Regions from separate parts of the Homo sapiens genome. Here regions 2 and 3 are each linked to region 1. The links come from fine-mapping of genetic effects on gene expression. A gene starts in region 1. Each other region holds a variant in brackets. All regions are shown on one strand. Distances are between the middles of the regions.

Region 1 (2,758 bases):
CCATTATATAAGTCTTGGAATGACAAAATTATAAGAATAAAAACGAATCACTGATTGTCTGGGGTTAAGAAGGAGGCAGGGCAGGAAAGAAGTGTGTGTGGTTATAAAAAGGCATTAAGGGATCCTCCTGGTCCTGGGAACATCCTTTATCTTCACTGTATCAATCAATGACAATATGCTGGTTGTGATATCGTACTATGGGTTTGCCAGATCTTATTGTGGAAAGGTGGATAAAGGGTACAGGGTTCTCACTATACTGTATTATTTCTTACAACTGCATATTAATCTACAATTAACGCAAAATACAGTTTAATTCGAAAATAAGTAAAGTTAGCCTCAAAGCAAATTAAGTACAATTAAAAATAAATCTAACATCAGCTAAATGAAGTGTTCTCTTCTGCTCAAGCTTGTTTGGATACGTAATCTATGAATCAAAGAATTTATAAAACACATTTTCCTCACCAGGACCCCTCAATTTTCCCTCACTCACACATGCACACAAACACAGCAACTGAGACAAGGGGGTCCAGACAGAAAATTTGAGATTTTTAAAAAATACGCGATAGAATGAAAAGAGACCTGGGCTGAATCAGGGAGAAAAATCTTTGTCCAGGTTCTATAAAACAAACCAACGGTGTCACTTTGGACGGATCCTCTAATCTCTCAGCCTGCAATCTGAACTGTTTCTACAATTTAAACTTCTCATGTAGGAGGTTGCTTAGTAGAGTGGTTCTCAAACTTTTTGGTCTCCAGCCTCCAAAGAGCTTTTGTTTACACAGATGAAAACCACCAATGTTTACTATCAAAAATTAAAAGGGAGAATTTGTTTTTAAGAATACACAGGCATCGGGCCTCCAAACGGCGGTGAGATCACTCCATACCATGTAGCCTTTGGAAAACTCGATGTACACGACCTTGGTACTATTAACGAAAATAGTTGTAACCACACTTGGAAAACCGCTGGCTTACTAACAAGCGAGATAAATCTACAAAAGTAACTGGAAAGGTTCAAAACAGTGAACAAACGCGTTCTTTTAGAGTACAAAAGAGTCAAGGCGGGAAAAAAACGGTTTAAAATCCCAATGGAGGAAAACTTGGACGACCACACCATCGGATAAAACGGGAGAGCTTTTGAAAAGCCAGGGGAGCCGGGCTTTCTCCCGGCGGCAGGGAGGCTCGGAAGTGCTCACGGCTGCAAAAGATGACCGCTATTCAATCAGTCCGCACTGCGCCTTCAACTCCGTTATAGCCGTAAGAGACCCACAAACACCGCTGTGGATGTAACTTTTGGCAAAGACCGGGAAGTCGTTCAAGAACTCTCCCACCGTCCCGACGCTGGCGCCGCGCCCCGCGAACCGGGGTCCGGCCGCGCCCAGGCTCCGCAGAGGCTCCTCTCCCGCCCCAGGCGCCCGGCCGCCGCGGAAGCCGGGGAGCACTGGGCGGGCGGGGCCGGAGGGGGCGCGGGTCACAATCCCGGGCCGGACCAGGGGGCCGGTGGGTCGAGGGCGGGAAGTCCCGCGGGGGCCGGGGAGCGCGGGGCTGGGGCCCCGGCGTCGGCGGGACTCACCAGGTGCCGCGCCACCTCGGAGGAGGCCATGGTCGCGGGCAGGGGCACGGTGAAGCGGCTGTATCAGCCCGGCCCCGAGCGGCTGGTCCCGGCGACGGCGGCGGGAAGGCCGGAGGGCAGAAGCAACGGGCGGGGCGCGAGGCTAGGCTGCCTCCGCGACGGGGAAGGGACAGGGGCGGGGCCGAGCTGGAGGCCTCCGGGGGCGGGGTTGGGGCGGACGCCCTGTGGTGCGCGCTGAGCGTTTTGCCTGCGCCAAGCGAGCCCCTCACAGGAGCTACCCTCGACGCCTGAGGACTGAGCGTCAGCGTTGGGGCGGGCTGAAGGAGAGCTGGGACTCCAGGAAGACGGCGCGAGGAATGCAGGCGGGAACTGCGGAGCAGTGATTGCGGCCCTCGCGAGGCCGGAAGTGGGCGGGCCTTGAGGCGAGGCCGCCCTAGGTAGGTGTGGCCGAGACAGCGGGGAGCGGAAGTGGGCGTGGCCTGGTGGCGTGGGCGCGGGGCGGGGGTGCGGGGGGCGTGTCCGCCCGGGCGCGGCCCAGTGAGGCGGTGGCCGAGTCCTCTGGCCTCAGACGCGTAGGCTGGCAGCCCGCTGAGCCCGCCAGACTCCGCCGCCGTCGGGAGCCGGCCGCTGGGAGCCCGTCGCTATGGGACCGCGCTGAGCCGCCCGCTGGCGGGGGAGCAGCGCGGTCGAGGATGGAGGGGCCGGCAGAGTGGGGCCCCGAGGCGGCGCTGGGCCCCGAGGCGGTGCTGCGCTTCCTGGCGGAGCGCGGGGGCCGGGCCCTGCACGCCGAGCTGGTGCAGCACTTCAGGGGCGCCCTAGGCGGCGAACCGGAGCAGCGCGCCCGCGCCCGCGCGCACTTCAAGGAGCTGGTGAACGCCGTGGCCACTGTGCGCGTCGATCCCGCCGACGGCGCCAAGTACGTGCACCTCAAGAAGAGGTTCTGTGAAGGGCCGTCCGAGCCCTCCGGGGACCCGCCGCGAATCCAGGTGACCGCCGAGCCCGAGGCCCCCGACGGCCCTGCCGGGCCCGAGGCGCGCGATCGGCTCCCCGACGCGGCGGCCCCGGAGTCGCTCCCTGGACAGGGCCGCGAGCTGGGCGAGGGAGAGCCCCCCGCCCCCGCGCACTGGCCGCCCCTGAGCGCCGGGGCTCGCAGGAAGAACTCGCGGCGCGACGTGCAGCCCCTACCGCGGA
Region 2 (2,758 bases), 250 kb before region 1:
GCAGAAAAATATTTTTAAAAGCCATCCAGCAGAATGTTTCCTCATCCACAGAGGACCCACTTACTGGTCCCTTAACCACTTCTGATGTTTCCTTGCACCAAAAAAAAAAAAAAAAAAGTATACACTTACCTTTTAATCAAAGCACAGCATCATAGGTAGAGACTGAAAGCCTGCCATTGTTTGTTGTTGCTGTTGTTTAACAGCTGATACAGGTATTCTGGAGAGGCTACTGTGCCGCTTAGTTACTCTGAACATGTAATTTTTTTCACTGTATTAATAATATGTCATATTTTTTACTGCTAAATACTTATGTGTGAATAATTGTAAGAAAATGATTGCTTATTGGTAGCATATAAATCCAGAGTCAGAAGTGAGGCTGATGCCAAACAACCACAGATGGTCCGCATGGGTGATACCCTTTGCTTTTTGTAGGCTCGATGTACACAAACTTTGTTTCATGCACAAAATTATTAAAATGTTGTATAAAATTACCTTCAGGTTGTGTGTATAAGGTATATATAAAACACAAATGAATTTTGTGTTTAGACTGGGGTCCCATACCCAAGATATCTCATTATGTATATGCAAATATTCCAAAATCTGAAAACATCTGAAGTCCAAAACACTTTTGGTCTCAAGCATTTCAAATAAAAGATACTCAGCCTGTATATAGGAAAGCAATTGACTTTTGTATATTAGCCTTGTATCCTGCAACCTTGCTATAATCAAGTATTAGTTCTAGAAGTTCTTCAGTTGGTTCTTTCAGATTTTCTAAATAGATGATCATGTCATCTGTAAACAAAGGCAGTTTTATTTCTTCCCTCCCAATCTGTACACTTTTAATTTCCTTTTCTTGTCTTATTGTATTATCAAATATTTTTAGTATGATGTTAAAAAGCAGGGGCAGAGAGTACATTCTTGCCTTGTCCTTGATCTTAGTGGGAAAGTTTAAAGTTTCCCACCATTAAGTTTCTCGTAATTAGGTGAACTGTAGGTTATTTGTAGATGTTCTTTATCAAGTTGAAGAAGTTCCCCTCTATTTGTAGTTTACTGAGAGTTTTTATCATGAATGGGTATTGGATTTTGTTAAAAGCTTTTTCTGTATTTACTGATATGAGCATGTGATTTTTCTTCTTTAGCCTGTGGATATGATAGGTTACATTTATTGATTTTTAGATGTTGAGCCAGCCTTGCATACCTGGGATAAATTCCACTTGGCTGTGGTATATAATTCTTTTTATACCTTGTTGGATTAAATTTTCTAATATTTTGTTGAGGATATTTGCGTTTATGTTCATGAGATATATAGGTCTGTAATTTTCTTGCAATGGCTTTGTCTGCTTTGGTATTAGGGTAACGTTAACCTCATAGAAGTTAGGAAATATTCTTTCTGCGAAGTATTGAGATTGTAGAGAATTGGTATAATTTCTTCATTTATATGTTTGGTAGAATTCACTAGTGAACCTATCTGGTCCTGGTTCTTTCTGTTTTGAAAGTTTATTAGTTGTTTATTCAGTTTCTTTTTTTAAAATGGAGTCTCGCTCTGTCACCCAGGCTGGAGTGCAGTGGCGCGATCTTGGCT[C/T]ATTGCAACCTCCGCCTCCCTGGTCCAAGCAATTCTCCTGCCTCAGCCTCCCAAGTAGCTGGGACTACAGGCATACGCCACCATGCCCGGCTAATTTTTTTGTATTTTTAGTAGAGATGGGGTTTCACCATGTTGGTCAGGCTGGTCTTGAACTCCTGACTTCAAATAATCTGCCCACCTCAGCCTCCCAAAGTGTTATTCAGTTTCTTTAATAGATAAAGGCCTATTGAATTATATATTTCTTCTTGTATGAGTTTTAGCAGATTGTCTTTTAAGGAATTGTTCCATTTCATCTGGGTTATCAAATTTGTGGACATAGCATTATTCATAATATTCTTTTATTTTTTTAACATCCATGGGACATACAGGGATGCCCCCTCTTTTATTCCTGATATTAGTACTTTGTGTCCTCTGTTTTTCTTAGTTTGCTTGCTAGAAGCATATGATTTTTATTGATCTTTTTAAAGATTAATTTATTGATCTTTTTTGTTTCATTGATTTTTCTCTATTGTTTTCAATTTCATTGATTTCTTCTATTTCTTTTATTTTATTTATTATTTGCATTTAATTTGCTCTTTTTTTCCTAGTGTCCTAAAGTGAAGATTTAGATTATTTATTTTAGATCTTCCTTCTTTTCTAATCGATGCATTCAGTGCTATAAATTTCCCTGTAGGTGCTACTTTTGCGGCATCTCACAAATGTTGGTAAATTACATCTTCATTTTTATTTAGTTCAAAATATTTTTTAAATTTCTCTTGAGAGTTTTTCTAAGACCCAAGTGTTACTTGGAAGTATGTTGTTAAATCTCCAAGTATTTTGGGATTTCCAGCTATCTTTCTATTATGGATGTCTAATTTAATGCTATTGTGGCCTGAGAGTAGACATTGTATGATTTTTATTTGTTTAAATTTGTTAAGGTGTGTTTTGCAGACCAGAATATGGTCTGTCCTGGTGAATGTTCCCTGTGGGCTTGAAAAGAATGTGTAATCTGCTGTTGTTGGTTGAGATATTATGTGGATGTCAGTTGTATCCAGTAGATTGATGGTGCCATTAAGTGCTATTAAGTTCAGTTATATCCTTACTGATTTTCTGCTTGCTGTCTCTGTCCATTTCTGATTCAGGGGTGTTAAAGTCTCCAGCTGTAATACTGGATTCATCTACTTCTCCTTCTGTCAG
Region 3 (2,758 bases), 88 kb before region 1:
CACAGCTTGTCCAAAGGCTCTAGCTGGTAGGGAGGACCTGGGGCTCAGAGGGCAGTTCTCTGACCTCCATCCACTGTAAGGACGGCTCAGTGGTCACACGCTGCCCACTGTCACCTTCTCATGACATGGGGATTTGAATGAGATCATGTGTGTGAAAGCCGGAGTGAAGCAGCCATAACACGCTCTGTGAATATCAGCTCCTGCTAGGGATCTTAGGGTGACAGAGTGGGACCCTGTCTCAAAAAAAAAAAAAAAAAAAAAACAAAACAACACTGGGCGCGATGGCTCACGCCTGTAATCCCAGCGCTTTGGGAGGCCGAGGTAGGCAGATTACTTGAGGCTAGGAGTTCGAGACCAGCCTGGCCAACATGGTGAAACCCTGTCTCTACTAAAAATACAGAAATTAGCCAGGCGTGGTGGAGCATGCCTGTAATTCCAGCTGAGGCAGGAGAATCTCTTGAACCTGGGAGGCAGAGGTTGCAGTGAGCTGAGATCGCGCCACTGCACTCCATCCTGGGTGACAGAGAAAGACTCCATCTCAAAAAATATATAAATAAATAAATAAAAATTAAAATTAAAAAATCTAAAAAGGCCTTCCATTTTTAAATTTTTAAGGGTTTCTAAATGAGAAAGTCCTAATTATAGAATATATAGAAAAGAAGGGAAAAGAATCAAGAAGGAAACAAATGGCACATGGAATTCCCAAGCCCTGGGTTCCTCCTCGGCGCAGATCTTCAGTTATGTTCCTTTCAGCAGGGTCAGGATTCATCCGTCCTCTGCATCTTCACTCAGTGCTTCTGCAGCTGCCTGCTGTCCCCACATCACAGACTAGTTCAACACTTTCCCATGGTGGGCATTTAGGCTCCTTACCGTTGTTTTTTTTTTTTTTTTTGTGGTTATGGATGAGGCTTCAGCAAATATCCCTTGACATCATTTTTGTTTTTGTTTTTGTTTTTTGTTTGGTTTTTGAGACAGAGTCTCACTCTGTCACCCAGGCTGGAGTGCAGTGACGCGGTCTTGGCTCACTGCAACCTCTGCCTCCCGGGTTCGAGAGATTCTTCTGCCTCAGCCTCCTGAGTAGCTGGGACTACAGGCATGTGCCACCACGCCCAGCTAATTTTTTTTGAATTTTTACAAGAAATAGAGACAGGTTTTCACCATCTTGGCCAGGCTGGTCTCGAACTCCTGACCTCAAATGATCTGCCCACCTTGGCCTCCCAAAGTGCTGGGATTACAGGCATGAGCCACCATGCCTGAGGGCTGAAAGTGCTAGTTACCTGCACCCTCACCAGCCGGAGCCCCACAGGCCTACACTCCCCGAGCTGACGCCAACCACAAAGTGGTGGGCTGGTGACGTGAACCCCAGGGCACTGCAGCCATGAGGAGGTCCAGCACCCGGCATTCAGGGCAGGATGGAAACATTCCTGGACAACA[A/C]CTTGGTCACCATCAGGGTAGCTCAGGACAACCTGCTCGGTGCCCATTTGTTGTAAGATGCCAGAGAGGAGGCTCTCAGTGGCCCTCTGGCCACTGTCCTTACTAGCAAAAGCAGCCTCCTCCCTAAATCATTGATGCGTTTCCTACTTGCACTTCCTACCTGCTGGAGGCCTGTCCTGGATGTGGCTCCGAGTTTCCTCCTCTGTTCAGGTTTTGGGATCTCTCTGGTCCTACCATTGTCATTGGAAGCAGATGGAGGGTAATTTTCTTTGTGCTGCTATTGCTAATTTTCCCAGCTCAGAAGCCTCAGCATTAACAGTCTCTGCAGCCCACTGTGGCCCAGTGAGTGGGGAGGTGGTGTCACCCAGGTTCTGGAGCTGCTCGCAATCCCGAGCACCAGAGCCACCACAACCAGTCACCATCAGGGCCCCTGACACACGCCCACAGGTGACCAGGAATCAGGGCACAGTAAGCACCAGACTAAGTTCCTTATGTCTTTTCACAGATGCTATTTCCCTCTTTTGTCTCTCAGGAAAGCTCATCTGCCACCCTCTGAGACCTCAAATTCGAGGCACAGGCTTCCTTTCTTGGGTTTAAGCCCAGGGCTGCCTGCTGTTGCCTGTGGCCCTGGGCAAGGCACCAGCCTCTCTGAGCCACTCTCACCTCCTTTTTATTTTTTATTTTTTTGAGATGGAGTCTCATTCTGTCGCCCAAGCTGGAGTGCAGTGGTCTGATCTCAGCTCGCTGCAACCTCCACCTCTGGGGTTCAAGCAATTCTCGTGCCTCAGCCTTCCAAGTAGTTAGCTGGGACTACAGGCATGTGCCACCATGCCTTATTTATTTTTGTATTTTTAGTAGAGGCAGGGTTTTGCCATGTTAGCCAGGCTGGTGTCGAACTCCTGACCTCAAGTGATCCACCTGCCTTGGTCTCCCAAAGTGCTCGGATTACAGGTGTGAGCCACCACGCCCGGCTCACCTCCTCTTTGAATGACACCAGAAAGCAGACTTTCTGGAGGCCCAAGGGTGGGAGGAAGTGCACGGATGTGTCTGCCATGCACTCTGGCACAGGGGGCTCACCGATGACAGCTGCAATTGATATTCTCCCCGGCTCTTGGGTCCCCAGATGCACCCTCTCTCCACCCTTGCCTGGGACCACCTCAGCCTGGTGAATTCCTATTCAACCCTCTGGTGGGCTGCTTCCTCTCTAGGAGACCCTCTCTGATGGCCTACAAATGTGTTCTCAGAGATGTGTCTGCCTCAGCCAGCACATGTTCGACTCTAGCACGAGGCTCGAGCCTGCCTGCGTGGGGGCTGGGTATGCACA

Direction of the effects. Positions count from the first base shown, and alleles are read on the strand shown. Sizes are in standard deviations (SD) of each study's normalised expression. Not every link is listed here.
For the expression in substantia nigra of the gene that starts at base 1,736 in region 1, C is the high allele of the variant in region 3 and A is the other (small effect, 0.27 SD a copy in GTEx).

The links.
Region 2: its variant is fine-mapped to the expression of SEPTIN10 in subcutaneous fat (TwinsUK, PIP 0.95).
Region 3: its variant is fine-mapped to the expression of SEPTIN10 in substantia nigra (GTEx, PIP 0.95).

What each region holds. Positions count from the first base shown.
Region 1 is chr2:109,612,231-109,614,988 of GRCh38, forward strand. SEPTIN10 (septin 10) reads right to left here and starts at 1,736. Exons shown (of 11, transcript NM_144710.5): 1 at 1,568-1,736. The coding sequence starts at 1,597. SOWAHC (sosondowah ankyrin repeat domain family member C) reads left to right here and starts at 2,134. Exons shown (of 1, transcript NM_023016.4): 1 at 2,134-2,758. The coding sequence starts at 2,260. It also overlaps a transcript of RANBP2 not described here. RefSeq lists an enhancer at 626-1,535 and silencers at 1,388-1,477, 1,508-1,757, 2,018-2,187.
Region 2 is chr2:109,359,965-109,362,722 of GRCh38, forward strand. All of the region lies in intron 2 of SH3RF3 (SH3 domain containing ring finger 3), which reads left to right. It also overlaps a transcript of RANBP2 not described here. Among named protein-coding and RNA genes, the nearest start is that of MIR4266, 48 kb to the left of the region's middle. The variant C/T (reference allele first, on the strand shown) is at 1,583.
Region 3 is chr2:109,524,205-109,526,962 of GRCh38, forward strand. It overlaps a transcript of RANBP2 not described here. Among named protein-coding and RNA genes, the nearest start is that of SEPTIN10, 88 kb to the right of the region's middle. The variant A/C (reference allele first, on the strand shown) is at 1,435.